2 separate regions of the Homo sapiens genome follow, and region 1 is linked to region 2. Evidence: fine-mapped expression QTL. A gene starts in region 2. The other region holds a variant in brackets. All regions are shown on one strand. Distances are between the middles of the regions.

Region 1 (2,792 bases), 51 kb after region 2:
GAAAAATAAAATCAATGTCAAACAAAATCAATGTCAAATTAAATGAGAATTTATTGTTTTCTAGATTTGAAAACTATAGGGCATTTTCTGCCTGTTCTTGTCTTCATAGTTGGCTATGTTGTCATAATCATTATAGCCAACATTTATTAGCTGTTAAGTCTTAATTGTACTCAGTCACTTTTCTAAGCATAATACTAGTTAAGATCATGGCCTTGGAAAGATTTCTGGATTTGAATCCTGGCTCTACTCCTAACTAATTGTGTGATCTTAGGCAAGTTGCTTAACTTTGGAGCCTTAATTTTCTTGTCTTTAAAGTGGTTGAAGATAGTACTTACCCCCAAAGTGCTATCAAAGTACTGGTTGGTGTGAGAATTAAAGTTGTCATCATTATCACAACAGCTGGCATTATTGAACCTTTTCTATGTGTCAGACAGATACTATGCTTTACATACGTCTTACTAGCATCACCCTTATTTAATAGATGAGGAAGGTGATTCTCAGAATTTGTGACTTTCCAAATCATTTAGACTTGTGTCAATTGCAAATAGCAGAAAACTTGTCTACTTGTGGCTTAAAAAGATAGAGACTTTTTTTTTTTTTTTTTTTTTTTTTTTTGCGTGAGAATCCTGAATGTTAGTGGCTACTGGGGTTGTTTTAGCAGCTTGACAATGCTTTATGCTTTAACATCAACATGAGGCTTGGGGCTTCTTGAGTCATGCATGGTACAGTAAGGCTGCTGATTCTACAGACCACATGTCTGTGTTTAAGGGAGGAAGAGAATGGGAAGGAAGAGATTGGGGAGGGCAGGTAGTTTTCATAAGGGTAGTTAAAAAGCAGACCTGGGATGAGTGCAGTGGCTCACACCTGTAATCCCAGCATTTTGGGAGGCTGAGGCAGGAGGATTTCTTGAGCCCGGAAGGTTGCAGCTGGAGTGAGCTGTGTTTGTGCCACTGCACTTCAGCCTGGGTGACAGAGTAAGACCCTGTCTCACAAGAAGAAATAAATAAGTAAAAAAATTTCTTTTAAAATTTATTTTTTATTTTTTTGTCCCTTTTACCAGGAAAACAAAAGCTGCCAGACTTCAGTTTTCATTTAATTGGTCAGACCTATACAACATATCTAGCTTCTCCCTAACTGCAGGGAAGGCTCTGAAAATCAGTGTTTAACTT[T/C]TTCATTGTGGCTGCTTCAGGTGAGAAGGAGACTGGGAATATAACTCTTGTGTCACCTAGCCAGTGGGTTCTGCTGCTGTGCCTGAGCTCCCACCACTATTAAGTGGCAAAGCTGGAATTCTAACTCAGATGTCTCTTCCTCCAAAGTCCTAATTCTCCAGTTCTGCCTCTCAAAGAATAAAGGCTCCCGTATTATAAAGATTTGAATGAACATTATCCAGCATCTACAGATAGGTACAGTTTTTTTCTTGAAATTTTTCCCTTTTCAAAATAAAAAATTTTATTTACCTTTTTAGGCTGGCTGTATTTTGAAAGTATAGGTTATGTGTTCCTGTCTTCAACTAAAGATACAAAACAACACAAAAAATTAGTGACTGAATGTATTTTATATTAGAAATGACTACTAAGATATGTTTGTTTCAGAGAATTTCTGATAACACTTTTCAACTTTCAATAGTGAAAAAAAATACATCATTAAAGTAATATGTTCTTGCCTCTTTCCATTCTGATTACTACATTTTAACTCATGTAAAATGAGTTTGTTCTATGCTCATTTCCTAAGGGGTGGTTATCCACTGATTTCATTTTCTGGAAAATAAAATTATGTCACAATTCTTGGAAACTGCGTATTTATTTATTTATTTTGTTTTGTTTTTGTAGAGATGGGGGTGGAGTGAAGAGTGGGTAAAATTAAGATCATAATCCAAATTCTCTTTTCAATTGTCAAAAATATAACCATAGCTTACTCTTATATCCTGTCTTTTTTCAAGGATAAATATAGTAATGCTCTAAGTTAGGAAACATTATCCACAGTTTTTAGACAAGGAAACTGAGACCTAGAGAAGGTATGAAATATATGCAAAGTCGTGAGCTAGTACACAGTAGAGTTTTGTATTGAAGCCTGATCTGATCCACAATGCATGGTGAAGATGAAATCCTGATCAGTCTGTCACTTCGGACAGATTCTTATCTTCCTAGTTGTTTTAAACTACTTAGATTACATGTTTATCAGGGAAAAAAAAAATACAACTGTCACTTTCTAAAAATTTTAACATCTTTTTGTTGCAATAATCTTTTGTAAAAGAATTAAAAAACATTAAGTATAAGCCTAGTTCACCTTAGCCCACACTTTGCAATTTGTTTCACCCTATCACTTTACTGTTAAGTATTATCAAGTAATATTTAATTAAGTTCACTTAAATTCAGCCACACCATTGTCAACCATAAGCTGTCAGTCTCTAATAAATAGATGGACTGTTCTTATATTGTCTTTCCTAATCTGAATTCCAAAGCATGTCTTTTTAACTAATTACATTATGATGTGATCTGTCTACATTTCTATTTTCATATTTATTTTTTTAAATTGGATAATTAACCAAGCAAATAGTTCTAGTTGCATTTTTTGTAAGAAAAAGGGAAATAGGAAAAAGAAGTATTTATATATCATAAATATAAAATATGGTGTTTTTACATTAAAATTCTATTTATGCAAGTGTTTCTTCCTATACATATATCTTTATGTATTATTATTATTATTATTATTATTTGAGACAGTCTCACTCTGTCACCCAGGCTGTAGTATAGTGCTGCAATCTCAGCTCACCACAACCTCCGCCTCCCGGG
Region 2 (2,792 bases):
ATGCTCTTTACAATTTACCACACTTTCTCCTGAAAAAAAGTGGAAGTAGCACTATCCGTAGAAAATAATGTTCTAGGCAAGAGTCCATTAATAGTCTCGGGAGATAAACAGTTTTAACTGCCAAGAGGGAGAACTCACCTGGAGAATTTAATGAATTTGTAAGGACTACCATACAGTTAGCTAGTAATAATTTTATGTGATTCATACAATTGTGCACCATTCTGAGATCAGTGTACTTCGTGTTCTTAACACTATCTGTACCATTAGAGAGCATCAGAAAAGCTTAAAACCCATAGTCAAGGCATTCTTAAAATAGGGTCTGTGATCATAAAAATTCTTTCTCTCGAAGTACTTGCAAATGAACTGGAAAGGTGTGTGCCCCCAAAATAAAACTAACTGTGGATTAATATTAAACTGCTGGGTCAAAGATAGACGGACAACTAATTAATAAACACTTAAGAATGATGTTAGGCTGTTTTGAACAGGGTGGGTAAATTTTGGGAATTAACACTGCAGGAGAAAAGGGAAAGAAAATCCAGAGTGAGGGTGGGGGCCTACGGCGGTGCAATACTTAGGGACATTCCAAAACTTCTGAACTCCTAAGTTAGATAATAGGTATCTAGAGGTGTCAAAACATTTCAGAAAAACTATTTTTGTGGCGTGAGTGGACTGGCTGCAGAAGTGGCAAAGGACAAACTTGGATGCAGGGTTTGGCAAATGTTGGGTGAGCCCTAATCTGTGCCTGGTGCTAGGGACCCTACAGCAAAGTTCCTCTTTTCAAAGTTTAAAAAGTTGGGAGTAGACACTAAATATTATTAAATATTTAATATTAATATGTGGCATATTAGAAAGTGCTACATGGTACTAAGAAAAACAGGTGCCAGAGAGTCTGCATTTGGGCTTCCACTTCTAAATAGGGTAATCAAGGAGACCCTCATATTTGAGTGAAGACCCCAAACTCGAGTGCTGGCGGCCATGTAGGGGGGACGGCAGGGCGGGAGAACGAGCGTCGCGTTAGCAGAATTTACAGTACAATGGGGTCCAACGGATGCCCAGGAAGGCGAAATTCCTGCAAGTTAAACGCACTTCTAACGCAAAACTTAACCAGGCCCCTTTCCAACTATTTAGCCCACCAATTTTAGCTTAAGTCTCTTCTTCCCCACGCCACTCCCAGATGAAAGGAAGACACGCCTCGTTGGCCTCCAGAGCTCTGCGTCCGGGGGGCGGACCTCTCATAGCTCCGCCCCGTGACCCGCGCGCTTGCGGAGGGGAGGTCAAAGGTCAGAGGTAAAGAAGTCATGGCGGCGCTGTGTCGGACCCGTGCTGTGGCTGCCGAGAGCCATTTTCTGCGAGTGTTTCTCTTCTTCAGGCCCTTTCGGGGTGTAGGCACTGAGAGTGGATCCGAAAGTGGTAGTTCCAATGCCAAGGAGCCTAAGACGCGCGCAGGCGGTTTCGCGAGCGCGTTGGAGCGGCACTCGGAGCTTCTACAGAAGGTGGAGCCCCTACAGAAGGTGGAGCCCGGGCGGGTGAGAGGGAGTCGCGGGAATTACGCCAACGACGCGGTGGGCGGGGTCGGGAATAGGGGCGGAGCCTGGCTTAGGAAGGGGAGCTGAGGTCCGGGGCCCAGTTTTCCGGAGTTGCGGTGCGTTGTGGCTCAGCCCTCGGCCCCTAGAATCTGTGCTTGGTGTTTTTCTTCCTTTCGTTGTCCTTTTGTGTGGCATTTGCGTACTGGGCCGGGTCTGTCCACACTGCGCTTGTTTTCCTGGGATTGAATGCTGGTGGGAAGGTAACCAGCGGGGAGCGCTGCTGGGGAGGCGATCTAGGGCGATTCCTGGGACGCTAAGGAGAATGGGACTCACACGGAGAGGCAGGGCTCTGCTGGGTCTTGTTCTGAACAGTAGCTCTAGCATGGAGCTTGCTGTCTGGAGTAGAAGGCCCTTCATAAACATTTGTTAATTTAATGACTGGGTGATGAATCACTTTCTGAACTTGGGCAAGTGATTTAACTTGTCAGCGCTTCACCTCTCTTTTGTAAATGTCTTCTTTTTTTAAAAAGTAAAGTAAAATCTCCGTTTGTCTCAGCCAGTACTTTTGTAAAATACCATAAATTTATAGATAAATGAAATGGAAGAAATAAAATTACAAGCCTAAGTTTTTAATAATTAAACTCAGCAGACATGAAATTGAATTATATACAAATAAACTCTCAATTTCTGTATTTTTCTTCCTAGGGAGTAGTACCAAACAGTTCACAAGACTGGCAGTGTCCTGGGTTATAGGGTCATTTTAGTAGCAATTACTGATGTCAAAATTTTTCTGAAATCCAAGGACTAGAAGAAGCCTGGTATATTAGTTTATTATTTTCTGTTGTAACAAATTACTACAAATTTAGTGGCGTAAAACACAGGAAATGTGTTGTTGTTAGGGTTGTGAGAAGTCAGACGGGATCTCACTGGTCTAAAATCAAGGTGTTGGTGAAGTTGTGTTCTTTTCCGTAGCTTCTAGGAGAATCTCTTCCTGGCCTGTCTTTTCTGCCTCTGTTTTCTACTTTTTTGTTTTTTGGATTTTTTTGTTTGTTTTGTTGTTTTTTGAGACAGGGTCTCGCTCTGTCACCCACGCTGGAGTGTGGTGGCATGATCTCAGTTCACTGCTAAACCCCCTGGGCTCAAGTGATCCTCCTGCTTCATAGCTGGGACCGCAGGTGTGCACCACCACTCTGGGCTAATTGTTTTTTCTGTTTTTTTTTGTAGAGATGGGGTTTTGCCATGTTGCCCAGGCTGGTCTTGAACTCC

What was found. PIP is the estimated chance that this variant, and not a neighbour inherited with it, causes the effect.
Region 1: its variant is fine-mapped to the expression of MRPS28 in nasal epithelium (TOPMed, PIP above 0.99).

Annotation. Positions count from the first base shown.
Region 1 is chr8:79,977,739-79,980,530 of GRCh38, reverse strand. The region is part of intron 6 of TPD52-MRPS28 (TPD52-MRPS28 readthrough); the gene reads left to right. The region is part of intron 2 of MRPS28 (mitochondrial ribosomal protein S28); the gene reads left to right. Among named protein-coding and RNA genes, the nearest start is that of MRPS28, 51 kb to the left of the region's middle. The variant T/C (reference allele first, on the strand shown) is at 1,170.
Region 2 is chr8:80,028,755-80,031,546 of GRCh38, reverse strand. MRPS28 (mitochondrial ribosomal protein S28) reads left to right here and starts at 1,288. Exons shown (of 3, transcript NM_014018.3): 1 at 1,288-1,511. The coding sequence starts at 1,299. The region is part of intron 5 of TPD52-MRPS28 (TPD52-MRPS28 readthrough); the gene reads left to right. It also overlaps a transcript of TPD52 not described here. RefSeq lists an enhancer at 1,136-1,565.